Linked DNA regions of Homo sapiens: region 2 is linked to region 1. Evidence: fine-mapped expression QTL. A gene starts in region 1. The other region holds a variant in brackets. All regions are shown on one strand. Distances are between the middles of the regions.

Region 1 (10,716 bases):
TTTTGGAGATGAATATTTATTGAAACCCCAGAGGAAACTATGACACAGAGTATTCTAAGACAACTGCCCAGGCAACTGTAATGATAAATTATAACCCTAAAACTTTTGCCTAATGATGATTTATCCTAATATTTCATAAACAAGCCTTATTTTAATAATTAATGGGGAAAAGTATAATTTAAAAATTCAGCTGCAACAACAGGGGATACTCAGCCATAAAAAGGAATGAAATAATGGCATTCACAGCAACCTGGATGGAGTTAGAGACCATTATTCTAAGTGAAGTAACTCAGGAATGGAAAACCAAACGTCATATGTTCTCACTTATAAGTGGGAGCTAAGCTATGAGGACACAAAGGCCTAAGAATGATATGATGGGCTTTGGGGACTCGGGGGTGGGAGTAGGGTGGAGGGGTGAGAGACAAAAGACTACACATTGGGTACAGTGTACACTGCTTGGGTGACAGTTGCACCAAAATCTCCAGAATCAACACTAAAAAATTTATCCACATAACAAAAAACACCTGTTCCCCCAAAACTATTGAACTTTTTTTAAAAAGGAAAATAATAAAAATAATTCAGCTGCAGAGATGTGTCCTGCTGATAGGCCTCTGCTACAGGCCGTACTGTGTTCCCCTCAAAATTCATTTATGGAAGTCCTAACTCCCAGTACCTCAGAATGTGACTATATTTAGAGACAGGATCTTTAGAGAGGTCATTAAATTAAAATAAAGTCATTAGGGTGAGCCCTAATTCAATGACTGAAGTTTTTATAGGAAGAGGAGATTAGGATTTAAACTCAGAGAGAGTGAAGAACATGGGAAGCCACAGAGAGAAGACGGCCATATACGAGCCAGGGAAAGAGGCCTCAGGAGAAACCAAACCTGCCAATGCCTTGGACTCTCACTTCCAGCCTACAGAATTGTCAGAAAATACATTTCTATTGTTTAAGTCATCCAGTCTGTGTACTTTGTTATGGGAGCCCTAGCCCCAGCAAACTAACATAGCTTCGTATTGTTTCTTAATAATTTATACAAACTACTTAAAACACTTAAAACACTTCAATTTGTGTCCTGCTATTTAAAAGATATCTAACTTAAGATCTAAAATATTATTTAGGTTGAGCGTGGTGGCTCATGCCTGTAATTCCAGCACTTTGGGAGGCAGAGGCTGGAGGATCACCTGAGCCCAGGGAGGTCAAGCCTGCAATGAGTCATGACCACATCACTGCCCTCCAGCCTGGGTGACAGAGTGAGACCCTGTCTAAAAAAAATATATATATATATAATATATTATATATTTATATAATTAATTATATTTATATAATTATATATTTATATAGTATATTATATATTTATATAATTATATATAATATATATTATATATTTATATAATTATATATAATATTTTATATATTATATATAATATATTTATATATTTATATAATATATATTATATATTATATATAATATATATTATATAAAATATATTTATATTATATATAAAATATAATATTTATATTATATATAATATATATATAATATATACACACATAATTATATATAACAAATTATATGTATATTTAATTTGTTAAGATCAACTTTCTTCACTCCTTTTTAATAATTAGCATATTTCGCCAGATGTGGTAGTGTCTGCTTATAATCCCAGCTGCTTGGGAGGCTGAAGCAGGAAATTGCTTGAGCCCAGGAGTTTGAGGCTGCAATGAGCTGTGATGGTGCCACCGTACTCCATCCTGCATGACAGAGTGAGACCCTGCCTCAAAAATAATAAATTAATTATTAGCATATTTTATCAACATATAAAATAACTTACTCTTCAGATTGGCTAAATGTATATATTTACCAACATTACAGACAACTGCAATACCAACAACATAAAAGTAAGAATCTTAACAATCTATTTAGAACATGTACTCAACAAAACCCACACTGGCCAAATACACTAACTGCTTTGCCTTGATCTGGTGCACTCAGGCCCAACATGGGGCATGGTGTTTTGTGAATGGACATTATGCAATCATGCCAGTTGAAATAAAATCTTTGAAATTGCTCCAAAACTGGTTCTACAGCTTTAAAACATCTAATTTCATCAGTGCCTGCTACATTTAGGGAAAAACAAAAGGCTGCTTGTAGCAACCTGGTACCAAGAGTGTAGTTTAAGTCTCAATTGTTGCCAGGCCCCTGATAGGTGATTCTCTCTTCATTGTCCTTGCTGATTCCTTGCAGGCCACCTTCCTCTTCACACCCTCTGTGTGCTAGAATTCCTCAGGCTGGGAACTAGGCCCTTCTCTTGTCACTCTCCATTCTCTCCCTAGGTTATCTAATCTAATTTAATCCCATAGTTTTAAAATTCATCTTTATGCCAATAGCTCTCAGACCTATTTCTCCAGGTTAGAAACTGTCTTCTAAATTACAGATCTGTAATTTAGACTATCTGAAATCTGCATCTGGCTGTCGCAGAGACAGTACAAACTACAAACAACACATGTGAAATCCAACTAGTGGTCTACCCTTGCCCAAATGTGCTCCTCCACTAATCTTTCCTATTTTAGGAAATGACACATCATTCACCCAGTTGTTCATGCCAGAAACTGGACGTCCTTCTTGACACTACTTTTTCAGTGACCCCGGCCTATATCCAATACATTGGCAAGTCCTAGTGACTAAGGTATCAACAGATGATTGATAGACAGATAGATAGATGATAATCTTAAATCCATCCACTTCTCTCCACCTCCACTGTCTTAAACCTATTCCTATTTATCATCTGTGACCTAGACAGCAGTTTCCTAAGTGGTCTGCCCACATCCTCTCGAGACACTTTCCAATCCATCTTTCACAACATAGCCAGAACAATCTTTTAAAACCAATTCTTTTTTTTTTTTTTCAGACAGAGTCTCACTCTGTCGCCCAGGCTGGAGTGCACCGGCATGATCTTGGCTCACTGCAACCTTCACCTCCGCCTCTGGGGCTCAAGTGATTCTCATGCCTCAGCCTCCTGAGTAGCTGGGATAACAGGCGTGCACCACCACACCCAGCTAATTTTTGTATCTTTAGTAGAGACAAATTTCACCATGTTGCCCAGACTGGTCTTGAATTCTTAAACTCATGTGATAGGCCACCTCGGCCACCCAAAGTACTGGGATTACAGGCATGAGCCACCGTGCCTGGCCAAAACCAATTCTCTTTTATTCTTTCTCCCTCTCATTGACACATACACATCACTTAAAGCATTTCAATCACTTTGCATGTAAGATAAAACCCCAAATCATTAATATATACTAAGTCAAAAGAAATTCTGAAGGACAAAAGCATTTAGAAAAAAAGTTTACTTACAAAAACACTTGCAAAAGTATACAGGTGAATTTACGCTTTAGAAGGACTGATACATCAAATGAACACACACCAAGGTTTACAGTTAGTTGCTTCATGGTGAGAAAAGAGCAATTTTCTCATATGATTGCCATATGACCCCAAGCTCCCACATATCTTCAGACTGTAGCAGTACAAAAGTCAGCAATTAAACTGTAAGAGAGTCAGTAATATATGGGAAATGCTGAAAGTTTTGTTCACTTTGGAGACTACAGAGTGTGATACTGTTGTTTCACGGTTTATTTCAGAACACAAAGTATTTTGTTTTTCCTGTGGGAAGTAATATGTACACTCACTCATTTTGGAAACAGGACAAGATGTCAGTTTTGCTTTATAAGCATAAACCCCAGCATGTCTGGGTACTTCTTATATCAGCTTCAACTCATGCCACTCTCCCCCTCATTTTCTACATTCTAGTCACATGACCTTCTTGCAGGTTCTCAAAGCTCTTCCCCAACATGCCGTCCCCTCTGTCTGGTACACATTCCCCTACATACTTTACCTGCCAAACCTTACTCATTTTCCCAGATGCAACTTAAATGTCACTTCCTCCAAATCCCACTCTAAACTGAGTGCCCCAACTATTCAATCATAGCACTCTGCATTATCAGGTATGATGCCTTTGGATGCGAATAACTGAAAAACCAAACCTATCAATAGAGTTTTTAATATCAGGGAGGCTTTTGGGCATGGAGAATAACAATCACCACTATGTGTACTTTTGTTTAATGCTTACTTTATAAACTTTAAAATATATTAAACAGTATTTCTGGGAAATACTGTCTGATGCCATCCAATGCAGTATTCACTAACCACATGTGGCTATTGAACACTTGAAATATGACTAATCCAATTAAGGAATTTAATTAGGAATTTTTTTAATTTAAATTTTGGAAAAACTAAAGTGTGTGAACCTATTTTTTCAACTGCAAACTTTATAAAATCTAAACACAGATCCAATATTTCCAATTAAAATCAGGCAACTGAGATCAGTGTATGCATGTGAAATACATATCGAATTTTCAAGACTCAGTATAAAAAAATGTAAAAATTATCTGAATTTTTATATTGACTACATGTTGAAATGAGATTTTGGATATATTACGTTAAATAAAATATATTACTAAAATTAATTTCCTCTTTTTTTTTTTTTTGAGGTGGAGTCTCGATCGATCCCCAGTCTGGAGCGCAGTGGCTGATCTCGGCTCAGCGCAACCTCCGTCTCCCGGGTTCAAGCGAGTCTCCTGTTTCAGTCTCCCTGGTAGCTGGGATTACAGGCGCCCACCACCGCGCCGGGCTAATTTTTGTATTTTTAGTATAGACGGGTTTTCACCATGTTGGTCAGGCTGGTCTCGAACTCCTGACCTCAGATGATCCGCCCGCCTTGGCCTCCCAAAGTGCTGGGATTACAGGCGTGAGCCACCGCGCCTGGCCTCATCTGCAATTTTACTTAAATCACAAATATACTAGATCTTCTTACATGCTTCGAAGAACTAAAAAAAATAAGACATGAATTATCACAATGATTACCGAATTAATTGTAAATTTTTTTATTTAAACTAGTCACAAAGGTATCACAGGTATGACTTACACCTAACGGGGGCCAAAAGATGGGTTGCGAAACGAATGACTGAATTATCCCTAACAATCTTGGGAAGAAAACAGGATTGGCCAGGCCCATCCCGAGAGGTCCACGTCAGGCAGGGGCCCCGCCCACCGCGGGACCAAGCGGCTACGCCTTCCAAGTTTTCATTCGGGGCCGCGCCAGCGCTGAGGAGAGTCAGACGCCAGATGGTTCCGAAGGTCCTGCAGGCTCTCGGGGCACCCTACAGCCGACACGCCAACAAAAGCTTCGGAGCCGCCAACCCCAAAACGGAAACACCGGAGCCACAAGCTGAGCTCGCGTAGGGCACGCTCCCCCGGGAGTGCTTCCGGGACAGGGGGCGGGGTCGCCGGAAGTGGCCGTCCGCCGTCCGCTGCTCGTTGTTTAAGCGGCTGACGGGAAGGAGAAGCCAGAGCTCCAGCGGCGCCGCGGGGCGGCAGTCAAGACCAGAGCCGGAGCCGTCACTCACCTCTGGATTAGCCTGAAGCGGAGACTACCGGCTGCGGAGCGGCGGGGCGAGACACTTGCTCGCCTTTTGACCCCATCATGTCGCGGGGCTCCATCGAGATTCCCCTCCGGGACACTGACGAGGTAAGTGTCGTGTATGGAGGCGGGTGGGGGCCATGAACTTGTACGATCGCCCCCACCGACTTCGCTCGACTTCGTTTCTGAAGCGAGAGCATCCTCCTTCCCTAAGAGCCCTGATCGAAATACCTGGCCAAGGTCTGATCATCATCTTCTTCAGCCCCTGTGCCCTCTCAGGCTGGGGGCACCGCGTCTCTGCAGCCTCAGGGCCACTCGGAGAAGGAGTTCTTGAAAGTTCCTCTCCAGCCTGTTCGAATTTGACAGTGCGCTACTCTTTTCCTAACCAACCCACGGGAGCAGAGGTGTGAGAGTACCCGATAAACTGTAAAACACCTCGCAGATTACAGAGGTGGGCGCTGATGTTTCCGGGGTTTATATGCTTGCTGCTCAAACTCGAGATCTTTCCCTGGGAATATATAGGAGGTCGCCTCTTCTCCCTTAGAAACTCGAGTCTGTCATGGTGCGCTGTGTTCTCTACACCAACTCTCCTTCAACGAGATATCCCAAGATTTAGCCGCCCCTGTGTGCTGATAAAATTTAACCTCCTCTCGCTTACCTATGTCTCATTCATGGGTGGCCTGTGGCTTGTCTGAGTAAAGCTCTCAGCTTTGATGTTCAGTCTTCTTGTATATCTTTTATTTTTATTTTTTTTGTTTGAGATATAATATTGAGGTATAAAATTCAGTGGTTTTTAGTGTATTCGCAAAGTTGTATAGTCATTACCTCTAATTCCAGGACATTTTCCTATTATTATTTTTGTGCTTACAGTCAGGACTGTCTGTTACACGCAGGTGCCACCTCCATGATTAATGTGTGCAGTGGCATTCAACTTTGCATGGCTTGTAGGGTCATGCATCTCAAGGAGTCAGACCTATGGCATAATAGTCTCTAGGGTGCTTATCTGCACTTTACTTGGATTCTATGTTAAGTAGGATTTTGTTTTGTTATTTTTTAGTAAGCAGACCATTTCTAGTATTTTATAGTTCCAGTGATCTGGGGACAAGTAGCAGGGTTTGTTTGCTTCTCTGTGCTTTAACTTTATTATAGTATAACCTATTCGTCATGTGCTCCTTAAACATTAACATGGATTAGCTCAACCGTATTGAAAGTGAACACGTACTCTATGTATATGCATGTTGATTATATTCACGAAAAGCAGCAAAGATGAAATGTGAATTTTAAAGTGGAATAAGAGTTAAGACCTACCTTTTGTATTTTAGGTCATTGAACTTGACTTCGATCAGTTACCGGAGGGAGATGAAGTTATCAGTATTCTGAAACAGGAACACACACAACTGCACATATGGATTGCTTTGGCGGTCAGTATTCATGTAGCAAATATTTTTTATTTGTTGACTAGGAAAATATGTAGTTTCTGTTTTCAGATATAGTAATAGCCAGCTTGGCTGCATGGTAGATTAGTTATACCATGTGTATGGAAGTTAATTGTGTTAATAATTTATGGAACAATAAGGCCGTTTTCCTAAATGATATGCTGCTCTACTGGTGAATTAGTATATGTTGGTAAAGGCAAAATTCATTTAAGTAGTACTCTATATTGAATATTTTATTATTTAGTGCTTGTTCAGTGAAGGCTGGCTTATGGTTTATAGATAAGCTGAAAAGAAGCGAAGTGCTTCTGTGTGAACATTGCTGCTTAACATTGTTTCCTATAACAACAAAACACTTCCCTTAAAATATTCTAGAATGTGATTAGGTTCTGGGAAAATCACTTCACCCAAAATCACAAAAGTTCTTTTGGGTGAAGTTTATCTCAGACTTATGTTTTTTGTCCTATTTAGTCTCCTTCAATGTGAATCTTACTGGAGATTCTCAAGAAAATCCAATCAGAAACCCTAAAATTCTATATCCTCTACTTGCCAGCATCAGCTGCATAATGATGTTTTCTTTTTATAGGAATAGGTAATATAAATGTTACAGTCATTATTCCTAAGTAGATATGCCACATTGCTTTCATACAAACATACAGAAGAGGCTCCTAATATTGTCTTGAAGAGTCAGAGAAATAGGTCTGGAATTGGGCTTATATCCAGTGCTCAAGACTGCTCTAAGAGTTTCTTCCTTTTAGATGTGGATTTACAGAGAAGTATTTTCAGTGACAAGCAGTGCCTTCTTGACTTGAAGTGCCAACTTTTCTTATTCCATGGAGACCAAGCCTCCTTGTCACACACATTTTTTTTAAAACCAGATGGTAATTTAGATGTATATATAATATATATTATATATATATATATTTTTAAGTACATATGCCCTCCTTAACAGCACTTAAACAAAAATTAGAATATTGGAGGATTAGCATGGCACCTGTAGTAGAATAAATTAATGACACATTGTGGGATATAGATTTTTACAGGGAAAAGAATGTAGGCTTTGGGGTTAGATCAAGTCCCGGCATGGCTGCTAACTAGCTATGTGACCTTAGACAAATGATCTAACTTCTGAGCATATGTCCTCATTTAAAATATAGAGATGTTAGCATCTACCTCATAGAGTGGTTGTACAGATTAGAGAATATGTGTATGAAATTCCTTTCATGGTATGTGACCAATAGTCAGTGGTTAATAAGTGGTGGATATTCCACATAGAGACAGAGTCTCTCTATTTTGCCCAGGCTAGACTCAAACTCCTGGGCTCAAGCCATCCTGCCACTACAGCATCCCAAGTAGTAGATTACAGGTACATACCACCACACCTAGTGGATATTTCTTTTATTATTTATAAGTCAAACAGATGCCTAGAGAAGTTGTTAAACAGGCCCAAATCACAGATAATTTTTGGTAGATCTAGAACCAGAACCCAAGTTTTCTATTTAGAATTCTTCATATCTTTCACTATTGTTTTCTCTCTTAGGCTCTACTTATCTGAAAATTTTAGTTAGAAATCAACTAGATAAGCAGCAGATTGGGAACATTGTGAATGATTCCAGTTTTTTAAACAGTTTTATTAAAGTCTAATGGATTTATAATAAACTGCACATATTTGACATTTACCATTTGATAAGTTTTATCATCTGTATATACCTGTGAAACCATCACCACAATCAAGATTAATGAATACATTCATCACCTTCTGAAAGTGTCCTCTGTACCACTCCCCACAAGTCCCCCACCCCACCCCTAATCCCTGTGCCAGACAACCACTGGTCTGCTTTTTGACACTAGAGATTGTTTTACATTTTCTAGAGTTTTATATAAATGGAATCACACAATATGTACTCTTTTTTTGGTCTGATTTCTTTCATTCAGCATAATTATTTTGAGATTTATCCATGTTGTAGCATGTATCAGTAGTTCATTCCTTTTCATTGTAGGATAGTATCCATTTTATGGATACACCACAGCTTGTTTATCCATTCACCTGTTAATCAACATTTTGATTGTTTCCAGTTTTTTGTTATTACAAATAAAGCTGCTGTAAACATTTGTGTACAACTTTTTATATGGACATATGCTTTAGTGATTCTAATTTGTTTCATTACCTTATAGCTGGAATACTACAAGCAAGGAAAAACAGAAGAGTTTGTAAAATTGTTGGAAGCAGCACGTATAGATGGCAATTTGGACTATAGAGACCATGAAAAAGACCAGATGACTTGCTTGGATACATTGGCAGCGTATTATGTACAACAGGCTCGGAAAGAAAAGAATAAGGACAATAAAAAGGATCTTATTACACAGGCCACCTTGTTGTATACAATGGCCGATAAAATTATTATGTATGATCAGGTAAAAATAAAGTCAAATTTCTTTCCATTTATGAAGGGAGAAAAGCACATGAAAGCAAAATGTGTGTGATAGCAGATTTTTTGAAAGAGTTTTTCTTCAAGTAACATGGTTGATAGAGTCAAAAAGAAGAAAGGTTCCTCATTAAAATCGGAATGCTTTGGTTTTTGTACTGTTTAAGTAATATGGACAAATGTAGTACATAAAACTTGCTCCAGTAATTTTATTATCTCCAGGTGAATTTCAAGGATATTTTAAGGAATTTAAATTTTTCTTTTGGTTGTTGTTATTGGCACAGAAGACTTACATTTCAGGATAATTTCTTATTTTGTAATTAAGAATTGCTTGTTAGTAGCTTAAGCACGTTACATTTGATAGGGGAATTTGCACTGTGCTCCACCTCCTTCCTATTTGGTTTTCACTTTAGTGTTACATGTTCATGGTATATAGGGGTAAAATCTAAGATAATACATTACTTCATAGAACCATTTGTTGGGAAGAGCCTGCTTCTGCCTACTTGAGGGTGACAAAATGGATCAAGCTGATGCACAGTTTCATTTTGTACTCAATCAGTCTCCAAATAATATTCCAGCCCTTCTTGGTAAGTGGTCTTTGGCAACATGTTAGGAAACAGTTGTTTTCAGCATATGCCTAGAATATATCTCTTGGTAATAGCTCCTTAATAACTCAGCTAGACAGCAAAGTAGAAGAGCTTTATGTTGTTACAAATGAAATTACCTACAACAAATATTGTTGAAATTGTAGAAATAAAATATATACCAGTTAAGAATAATTTATTATTTAGGCCAGGCATGGTATAATCTCAGCACTTTGAGACCCTGTCTCGTTATACCTGTAATCCCAGCGCTTTGAGAGACTGAGGCAGGAGGATCACTTGAGGCCAGGAGTTCAAGACGAGCTGGGGCAACATAGCAAGACCCCATCTCTACAAAAAATAATTTTTTCAAAAAAGAGTAATTGGTTATACACTTCTGAAGAGCCAATAAACAATCTCTACTTAGACAACTTAAAGTTATTTCAATTATTACTTTATAACATTTTTTAAACTTTTATTGAAGTTCAGTGGTACAAGTGCAGGTTTGTTACATAGGTAAACTTGGTCATGGGGGTTTGTTGTGCAGGTTATTTCATCACTTAGGTATTAAGCCTAGTACCTATTAGTTATTTTTCCTGATCCTCTTCCTCCTCCCACCCTCCACCCTCCAAAAGGCCCCAGTATGTGATGTTCCCCTCTGTGTCCATGTGTTCTCATCATTTAGCTCCCACTTATAAGTGAGAACAGGCAGTATTCAGTTTTCTGTTCCTATGTTAGTTTGCTAACTTTATAACATTTAACATAAAAATAGGAAGTTTTATTTTTAGACATAAATTA
Region 2 (10,716 bases), 41 kb after region 1:
AATATCATAGATGCCTGAGTATAAGGTGTCCTGAATATAACGTGACCCCATGCCCACTGTAAAGGTTCTCTGTCTGCCCAAAAGATTTTTCACTAACTTAAACTTACAAACTTTGGGGATGTAGATGAAATAGTTCAATGTCTACTAATAATACTTATTAAATTTAAAATGTGTTTAAATCACACATTCATAAAATGTTGAGAACAAGTGCTTTCCTCCATTCATATTCCATACAATAATTTCACTCAAATTTATCACAGAATCTTTGTCCATTGTACTTGAGCCACTTTCGGAATCATCTAACAGTTTTCAGGAGAACGTTGCCTTCCCACCCATCGTGTTGTTTGAGGTCCAGGCTTGAGAGTCCATGGCCCTGTGGCTGAATGTGTTGTCCTGAGCTGCCAGCACTCCTCTGCATCGCATTAGAACAACAACTGGCCTTCCCATTTGTCCCGTAGGTGGCTTTTCCCATCTTCATTTGATGTACTGCTCTTTCTTTTTTGTGTGAGAGAGGTTCTCGCTCTGTCAGCCAGGCTGGGGTGCAATAGTCAGATCATTGCTTACTGCAGCTTCGACCTCCTGGGCTCAAGCAATCCTCCTGCCTCCCCTCCCTACCAGCTAGGACTACAGGAATACAGCATTGTGCCTGGCTAATTTTTAAAATTTTTGGAGAGACAGGGTCTCACCGTGTTGCCCAGGCTGGTCTCAAACCCCTGGCTTCAAGTGATCTCCTGCCTCAGCCTCCCAAAGCAGTGAGATTTCAGGCTTGAGCCACTGTGCCCAGGCTAATGTACCACTTTTTAAAGCAATCTTTAAAATGCTTGTTTATAACTTTTGCAAACTCTTGAGATTTTACAACCGTGTCCCCAGGAATAACAATTAAGTCTGTATTCAATTTCTTTGACACCAAGCCTCTCGAAGGCCTCCATAAACATCAAAAACTAGCTATTGATTGGGATCACTTCAGGTTAATGTGTCATCCCCAAACTGTAGATTATTGTCCAAACAAATGTAATTGACAGGGCCTCATGTAATTGGAAATTGTCAGGCAATTATCGTGTGTCAATTAAAAGTAATAAAAGTAAAAAACATAAACAAAACTAACAACACATGTATAAGATATGTATTCTAAAAATTACACAATGATGAAAACAATATCAAAGAAGACTCAGGCTGGGCACAGTGGCTCACACCTGTAATCCCAGCATTTTGGGAGGTCGAGGTGGGAGGATCGCTTGAGCTCAGGAGTTCAAGACCAGCCTGGGTAACATGGCGAAATCCCATCTCTACAAAGAATACAAAAAGTTAGCCAGATGTGGTGGCGTGTGCCTGTAGTCCCAGCTACTTGGGGGCTGAGGCAGGAGGATCACTTGAGCCTGGGAAGCAGAGGTTGCGGTGAGCTGAGATGGCACCACTGCACTACAGCCTGGGTGACAAAGTGAGACCCTGTCTCAAAAAAAAAAAAAAAAAAGAAAGTCTTAAATTAAGAGATATATCATGTTCATGGACTGGAAGACTCAACATAGTGAAGATGTTTCTCTACAAAAAAAAAAAAGAAGAAGAAAAAATTGTTAGAGCGAAAATGTCAGGCTTTTTTTCAAGAGGATAAAAACTGCAGGTATTGGCTAGGCACAGTGAAACACGCCTCTAATCCCAGCACTTTGGGAATCTGAGGGAGGTGGATCACTTGAGCCCAGGAGTTCCAGACCACCCTAGGCAACATGGTGAAACCCTGTCTCTACAAAAAATTAGCCGGGCATGGTGGCCCACCTGTAGTCCCAGCAACTTGAGAGGCTGAGGTAGGAGAATCATTTGACCCCAAGAGGTTGAGGCTTCAGTAAGCTGAGATTGTGCCACTGCTCTCCAGCCTGAGCGACAGAATGAGACCCTGTCTTCAAACAAAACAAAAGCAAAACAAAACAAAACCTGCAGGTATTTATAGTTTGCCACATTTTGTTTTATTTTCCCCATCTTTGGAAATCAGCTCCAATTTTGACTGCCGTGTAATAGAAAACATGCGGACTTTAGAGTTATTCGAACTCTAAATCCTAGCTCTTCCTCTGACAAATGATGTGACTTTGAACAATGGCTCCATCCCCCTCAGCTTCAATTTCCTACTGTTTAAATTGGGATAACAATGTCTACATCCCAGGACTATTCTGAGAATAATATAGTCAGAGTTCAAAAAGGTTAGTCTTTTTTTCCCACTGATTTTTTAAAGAGCTTTTTGTGGTTAACCCTTGATTGTGCACATGCAAATATTTTAATTTATCCTTTATAACATTTTGGGACAGATTAATAGGCAAATCTGTCAACATTTCCCTTCATCGTTTCTGGATATGTATATTTTTTTCACAAAGAGATAGATGTTCCATGAAGTTAAAGCTTAGGCATCAGGGTCCCTCACTTGCCTGGGCCTCTTCCAAGGCTGCACCTAATTTTTCATTTGTGATTTTGTTTTCTTTTTCCTAAAGAGACCTCCACCACCCCTGCCAAATTATGTAAACTTCAGGCCCTACAGAATCTGGAACTTTCCCGAGTAACGTGCTTAGAAAAGTCACGTCACCCTAGGCCGGGCACGGTGACTCACGCCTGTAATCCCAGCACTTTGGGAGGCTGAGGCGGGCAGATCACCTGAGGTCAGGAGTTCAAGACCAGCCTGACCAACATGGCAAAACCCTGTCTCTACTAAAAAATACAAAAATTGGCCGGGCGTTGTGGCAGGCGCCTGTAATCCCAGCTACTCGGGAGGCTGAGGCAGGGAGAATTGCTTGAACCCGGGAGGTGGAGGTTGCAGTGAGCCGAGATCATGCCATTGCACTCCAGCCTAGAAGAAAGAGGGAGACTCTAAAAAAAAAAAAAAAAAAAAAAAAAAAAAAAAGAAGCAAAGCAAAGAAAAGAAAAGTCACCTCACCCCAAATTATGAAAAATTTTAATAGGCTTAGCTTTATATCTTTTCTTTTGGCTTATTTTCTAATTTTTTAGTACTAAAGTAGATTACTAATTTTCTTCAAAGAATTTTTCTCAGAACAAAATAGAGCTCCACTGCTCATTCATTCACTCATTTTATTTACTGGTTCGTCCAAGCTCTTCCCTCACCTTTCTGTACCTAGCTGAGTTGTGAAGCAGCTGGTGGGTTCAGGGGAGGAGAGAGGAAGGGACAGAGCTAGAGGGCACGGTGGCCCTGGATGGAAGTGATGGTACTGGGGTTGGGGGCAATGTATTAGTTTCTAGGACTACCGTAATGAAGTAGCACAAACAGGGTGTCTTGAACAACAAAAACATATTCTCTCATTGTTCTGGAGACTAGAAGTCCAAAATCAAGGTGTCAGCAGGGCATGGGAAGGCTCTAGAGATAATCTGTCCATGTCTCTCTCCTAGCTGCTAGCATTGCTGGCAAACCTTCGCAGTCCTTGGCTTGTAGAGACGTCACTCCAATCTCTGCCCCTGTCATCAAATGGCACTCACCCTGCATGTCTGTGTGCCACTTCTCTTATTATAAGGACACCATTATATCAGATTAGGGCCTCCTCTAATGACTTGCTTACATCTGCAAAGACCCTATTTCCAAATAGGAAGATCACATTCACTGGTACCTGGAGTTAGGACATCAGCATATATCTTTGGGGGCTGGGGACATAATTCAACCCATGACAGAAGGATTAGGGGGCTGATTCTTCCTCACCTCCGGTCCTACACCCCAACCCTCAGAAGCACCTGCCCCTCCCTACACTCATTCCGCCCTGGTTACACTTCCAAGCATGAGGAGCTCATTGCCTCTGCAAAGGGTCCTTTACTTTCTCTCTTCAGTTTCTGTCCCCTACCCCAACATGCATTTTGGTGTATCTGGTATGAGCACCGGCTCCTGAGTTACAGTGTAGGGCTTGAATCACCACCCCATGACTTAATAGATGTGTGGCCCAGTACTTCAAAAGAGCATGCATGATATGATGTGGCTCTGTGTCCTCACCCAAATCTCATGTCATCTCAAATTGTAATCCCCATAATCCCCATGTGTCAAGGGAGGGACCTGGTGGGAGGTGATTCGATCTTGGGGGCGGTCTCCCCCATGCTGTTCTCATGATAGTGAGGGAGTTCTCACAAGGAGATCTGATGGTTTTATAAGTGCTTGACAGTTCCTCCTTCACACTCTCTCTCTCGTTGCCTTGTGAGGAAGGCGCCTACTTGCCCTTCACTTTCTCCCGTGATTGCAAGTTTCCTGAATTCTCCCCAAACATGTGGAACTGTAAGTCAATTAAACCTCTTTTTTTTTTTTAATAAATTACCAAGTCTCAGGTATTTCTTTATAGCAGTGTGAAAACAGCCTAATACAATGCAGAAAAGGCGTTCATAGCTACTTGCCAAATACATGAAAGATCTTGGGCAGGTGCTTTGCTTCTCTGAGCCTCAGTTTGGGGCTCAGACATGGGGATAGTGAAGGGGGATAGTGAAGCACCTGCCTCAAGGATGTTGGGATGATTACAAGGGATGACTACCTTGATGCATTTGGTCCAGCCTGGCATATGCTAACTCCTCGGCAAACATTAGCTACAATAATCATAATATGTCCTAGCAGAGCTCAGGATGCAGTGCAGGCACTGCACTGGTCTTAATGAGGGATTGATATTAACAAATGATAAAAAGCAATCCTCCAAAGGCAGCCCATCTCACTCAGCATAAAAGCCAAAGTCCTTACTGGGTCTGACTAGTTCTCTGCACTGGCCGGCGCCCTTCTCCTCAGCCTCAAACCCCCTTGCCCTCTGCTTGGCCAGATTGTTCCTCAGACAGGCCAGGTGCGTTCCCAATCTCAGGGCCTCCAGCTTGGCCTCCCCTCTGCCAGGAATGCTGTTCCTCCAGATGGCTGTGGAGTTCACCCCCTGGCATCTCTTAGATCTTTGCTCAAAGGCCACCTCCTCCTGAGGCCATCCCAGAACCCCCTCTTTCAAGCAGCACTCACTCCACTCCCTAGCCCTTACTCGCATCCCTGCATACAGCACTTTTTACTGCCTGGCACTGTACGTTTGT[T/G]GATTTACTGTCTCTCTGCTATCACCCAGAACGTTGCTTCCAGAAGAAGACTGTCTCATTACTGTTACATCTCTGGCCCTGGAGTAGCCCCTGGCAAATATGTACTCAGTACATGTTTGCGAGACGCATGGACTTGTAGAACAGTTCCACAGCTGTCCATCACTGATGTTCCATACCTAGCGATGCGGCCCCTCGAAACGCACTGGAGAGCTGGGCAGACCAAGGATAATTTCACAGGTAAGTCAGATAGAGCCTGGGGAGGTGCAGCGATTGGCCTAGGCTCCGAGACTGATGACCCGGGAAGCTGGGGCCTGCGCTCTGCTCTGTGGCTCGGCATGCTGTGCAGCTGACCTGAGCAGCTCTTGAGGAGTCACTGCTCATTTACCAGTCACATCGTCGTGTCATGCACCGTTGACAGGAGACCAAGCCCAGGGCAACATTCTCACTTCCCCCTCTCCATGAGCGTGACCAGTGGGTCTCGGTCTTGCCTCCGCGTGGGCCGTACAGGACAAGGGCCAGAGCCTTGCAACCCGACCCACCTGCCAGGGGTGGTCTCCCAGCATCCCGGCAGAGGGCGCTGTGGGACAGCGTTGCTGATCGGTCGGGGACCTGGGTCCAGCTCAGCCTCCTGCGCTCCCCCTGGGTCAGGACGGGCAAGGGCAGGGCTGCGGGGCGGGGCAGGGCAGGCTGTGGGACTTGAATGTCCTGTGTCCGCTACTCTCTGCCCTGTGCTCAGGTGTCTCCTCGTCCAGGGCTCTTGCATATTCTTGTAGGACTTTGCTTGGAAAATTGTCTAGTGAGAAAGTGATTCGTTTTTGGTTTGCATGAGGCTATGGTTGCAGAGTTAGAAAGGGAGGGAGTGTTGGTTTGCGGCAAAAAGTTTAGGGATGAATATTGAGTTTGAAGTGCTGTGGCACATTCAGAAATATGTCCAGGGGCTGGTTGGATGTGCGAGTTAGACATTCTGGAAAGGGGTTTGGACTCAAGATACAGATGTCATCAGCAGATAGCTGGTAATCGGATCCACAGAAGTGAGTGACAGTGTTGAAGGAGGGAGGCAAAACAGCAACATTCAGGGGCCAGGTGAAAAAAGAGGGCTTTTAAAGGAGACTGAGGAGAAGCTGGGAGAAAAACAAAGTGGGAAAGAGGAAAGTCAACTGGCAAGTGCTTTTGATTGATCAAATAAGACTGAGCTATACCCTTTAGTTATATCTAGCCAATGATCTTGTTAGTTCAGAAGATGGAAGCAGTTCTCCTGGGGAGGAATCTTAGAAAGGAGGGTGACATTCATATCTATTGGGCTGCTATGTGGGATGCTTTCCCTAGTGACTTTTACATATTAGCTTGTTTAGCTCTCATGACAATCCTTAAGTATTAACCCTGTTTTCTTTCTTTCTTTTTTTTTTTTTTTTTAAATTTTTGAGACAGGGTCTTGCTCTGTCTCCCAGGCCGGAGTGCAGTGGCACGATCATAGTTCACTGCAGCCTCAAACTCTTGGGCTCAAGCAATCCTCCCACCTCAGCCTTCAGAGTAGCTGGAACTACAGCTGCACGTTAGCCACATTTTCATTCATTCATTCGAGACAGGGTCTCACTCTGTTGCCCAGGCTGGAGTGCAGTGACGTGATCATGGCTCACTGCAGCCTCGACCTCCTCGGCTCAGGTGATCCTCCCACCTCAGCCTCCTGAGTAGCTGAGACTACAGGTGTGCATCATCACACTCAGCAAATTTTTCTACTTTTTTTTTTTTTTTTTTGTAGACACAGGGTTTCCCCACGTTGCCCAAGCTAAATTTTCTAAAATAATTTCTAAAATAATCAAGACTCAGATAAAAAATATCTTACCTAAGATCACCCTGCTTGTGTTAGAGATTAACCCTAGATCGATCTACAACTCGAGTCTGAGGTCTTCCCACTACTTCCTTCCTCTATGTCCACATCCTGCCATGTAGGGTAATTTTATTAATTCATGATTTGGTTGAACAAATATTTGAGTTTACCGGGCACTGGGCACTGTTCTAGATGCTGGGAATACAGCAGTGAAAAAAACTGTCAAATACTTCATGCTCTTCACATTCTAGCAGGAATCAGATATAACCATGCAGTATGTCATGTAATGAGACATGGAGATACAAAAAGGAAAGAGGGATGAGGATGTGTTTAGAGTTTTTAAATATATATATGAATTTCTTTCCTGCCCCTTAAGATCTGCAGGAGGTTATCAGAATTGACAATGAGGACTTTACTAATAAAAGTGACATTTGAAGCTGGGCGCGGTAGCTCACGCCTGTAATTCCAGCACTTTGGGAGGCCGAGGAGGGCGGATCACGAGGTCAGGAGATCGAGACCATCCTGGCTAACACGGTGAAACCCCGTGTCTACTAAAAATACAAAAAGTTAGCCGGGCATGGTGGCGGGCGCCTGTAGTCCCAGCTACTCAGGAGGCTGAGGCAGGAGAATGGCGTGAACCCAGTAGGTGGAGCTTGCAGTGAGCCAAGATCGCGCCACTGCACTCTAGCCTGGGCAACAAAGCGAGACTCCGTCTCAAAAAAAAAAAAAAAAAAAAAAAAAAAAGTGACATTTGAGCCAAGACCTGAGGAGGGGGAGAAAGCCAGTCATCCAGTTATCCAGAAGAAAGGAGGAACATAAAACCTCCAAAGTAAGAAGATGCTTGGCATGTCCCAGGAGCAGCAAATCCAGTGTGGTGGGAGCAGAAGGATTAAGTGCCAGCAGTAGGAAATTAGATCAGAGAAACAGGTTGTGGGGCAAGGATGGGGAGAGGGCTAAGAAAATCAGATGTGGGGTGATGTAGACCAAATTAAGTATTTTGACATAAAAATCCCACTAGGTGGGAAGCCATTTGGCGGGTTTTGAGCCAAGTGGTGCTGTGTTGAGACGACAAAATGGAGATGAGGGCTAGGCAGGGAGGCCAGTTAAGGCTACTGTGGTACCTAGGTAAGAAATGAGGGTGGTGGTTGAAGAAATGAGTTCTTCAATTTCTAAAATGTTTGGAATGCAATCAACATGATTTGATGCTAGAATGGATGCAGAGTATGACAACAACTGAAAAAGTGTTGAGATCAGGCATCTCCCATTGGAAACTGAGAAGAAAAAGATGTCCTGGGAACAAGTTAACACTTTCAAGGAATGAGTAACTTGTCAAATGCTGCCTACAGGAGGATCAAAACCTACTGGATATAGCATTGGAGTTACTGGTGACCCTAAGAAAGTTTTGGTGTGGGGAACCAGGGGAGTGAAGCCCTACTGAGGCTTCAGAATGGGGAAAATTAGACAACTCTTTCAATTTTGCAGTAAAGGAAAAAAAAATTGGGGGCAGTAAAGACATGCAATCTTATTTTGAAGTCACCATGAAGTGAATGAAGATTAGTCACTACATGCTGATACTAAAGAAATTGGCAATCATGCAAGGTACATCCCAGTTATACCCAGATACTGCCATTCCACAGTATGGTAGATTATAAAGTACACTGTTAGGTGTCTTTAGAACAAGGTAGCAGCAGTATTATACATTCTCTATGGGTTGAATATTTTGAGTAGCTCTTGACATGTTTGGGGTGGGAAGATTAAAGCATGATTCTGTAAGCAATGACAAACCACTGCGTACCGGGTTTAGTTCATTTTTTATTGAGACGGAGTTTCGCTCTTGTTGCCTAGGCTGGAGTGCAATGGTGCCATCTCGGCTCACTGCAACCTCCGCCTCCCAGGTTCAAGCCATTCTCCTGCCTCAGCCTCCCGAGTCACTGGGATTGTAGACATGCACCACCACACTCAGCTTTGTATTTTTCTAGAAGAAAATAGGGTTTCTCCATGTTGGTCAGCCTGGTCTTGAACTCCGACCTCAGGTGATCCGCCCGCCTTAGGCCTCCCAAAGTGCTGGGATTACAGGCGTGAGCCACTGCACCCAGGCCCAGGTTTAGTTCTAAAACTTCCTTTAGCCTGATACCCTGGCTGAATTAGGCAAATTCTGGCAATAAGAATTGACTAGCTGATCCACCTAACCAGTTGCTCCTTTTGCTAGGTTAAAAATTAGTTTCCTCCCCTTCGTGGGGAGGGTTGGGCAGAGAAACAATTTACAGCCCCTTTAAAATTTAGGTAGGTTCATACAAATCTGTTTAGCTTTAAATTTTGCTGTACTCAAAGTACCCAAAAGCTTATGACTTGTTAAAACTTCAGGGGAAGATGAGTGCCATAATGCAAGATTTAGCTTCCCTGGCCCAAATAAGACAGACACAAAAACATTGATTGGTTCTGCCTCCCACCCACTGGAGCATGTGCAGGCAGCCTCTTCTGACTTCAAGGTTCTAATGGGTTCGGCAGTATGATAGTCTGCCTTGAGGGTCTCCCCAATCACCAAGAACAGGTTCTTAGGTGTTGACATCAACCAGGACTCCAGTAGCACACTTCAAGAGTCCCCATCCATGCCAATGTTAGAAGTAATCCTAGGATTGTCAGAATGTTCCAGGGCTGGAGACAAATCCTTCGTGTGTGTTTTTGGAAAACATGCAGAGGTTTAGTTGAATGAAGTCAATTTTACTGGGACACTGGAATTTTTCCAGAGGAAGCAGGGATCTTCCTGGACATTTGGGGCAGCTACTGGGAATGATGCTTGCAGGACAGCTAAGCTTATCCAGAGATCACCATGTATTTCAGTCTGACAAAAGATAAATTGTCACCAAATTTTAGTTGCTATGTGTAGCTATGTTCCTCCAAATTCATAAGACTTGTGATCTTTGATCATAAAAATCGTTTATATTGGTTAGTTTCAGTAACTCAAAGGAAATAAACACCTTAAATCTTGTGTCTCATCTTGAAGAGTCTAAAAATTCCTTCTGGAACCCAGGCTTGTACAGCAGAAAAACAAAAATTGGGAAGTCCTTAAGTCAAACTAAGGTGGGTCTCCTATACCTCAAAAACAAAGCTGACAATTCTCCCAGACTATGGATGCCATTTACAGCCACACATCACTACATCAAGTATCACAATGTTTATTGATAGATACAAGTATATAAAATCAGGGCATGAACATGACTTGATAAATTAAGTAGACTTAATTTCAATACTATAATAGGAGGGACCAATTCAAATTCTCACCATTTGTTTCACACCCACAAAAACCACTTCAAGGGCATTAACGATCTCTCAAAACTGATCAGTTTTGTGCAAGTAAACCATGTTTCTTTTAAAAAGACTTGTGCACTTGCCCAGGCTCAAGGATATTAAAATCTAGCACATAAAGCCCATTACTAGAGGTAGAAATACAGGCAATATACTATTACGGCAACAACCATCAATTACAGTTAAGAATTTTTCTGTAACAACCAAATGGATAATCAAATATTGCAACAACTCAAGTATTACTGAGCAAAGTGCATTTCTACAGTATTCAGTGTTGCTATTCAGTTTTCTAACTTAAAACAGCCTATGATAACTGGCAGCAAAGAAGGTCCTTGCAATAGACTGCCTCTGCTTGAGAACTTATGATGTAATTATTGCATGCTGCTAATATACTATCTAAACATTAAAGATACTCCTAAAATATTTGATGGTAGACTATGATTAAGACATTACACTACAAAAAAACCTTATGCAGAAGGAAATCCTAACTGACGTGCTTCTGCTTTAAATATTGTGAAAACATTACAGCGGAATGAATTTTCGCAGTGGTTAGGTCA

Direction of the effects. Positions count from the first base shown, and alleles are read on the strand shown. Sizes are in standard deviations (SD) of each study's normalised expression.
For the expression in testis of the gene that starts at base 5,375 in region 1, allele T in region 2 goes with a lower level than allele G (small effect, 0.22 SD a copy in GTEx).

What was found.
Region 2: its variant is fine-mapped to the expression of CTR9 in testis (GTEx, PIP above 0.99).

Annotation. Positions count from the first base shown.
Region 1 is chr11:10,745,872-10,756,587 of GRCh38, forward strand. It overlaps CTR9 (CTR9 component of Paf1/RNA polymerase II complex), which reads left to right and starts at 5,375. Exons shown (of 25, transcript NM_014633.5): 1 at 5,375-5,586; 2 at 6,801-6,899; 3 at 9,087-9,326; 4 at 9,807-9,924. The coding sequence starts at 5,542. RefSeq lists enhancers at 4,744-5,244, 5,043-5,192, 5,213-5,262.
Region 2 is chr11:10,787,041-10,797,756 of GRCh38, forward strand. EIF4G2 (eukaryotic translation initiation factor 4 gamma 2) reads right to left here. Exons shown (of 22, transcript NM_001418.4): 22 at 10,014-10,716. Among named protein-coding and RNA genes, the nearest start is that of SNORD97, 9.2 kb to the right of the region's middle. RefSeq lists enhancers at 4,818-5,367, 5,368-5,917 and a silencer at 5,578-5,717. The variant T/G (reference allele first, on the strand shown) is at 5,026.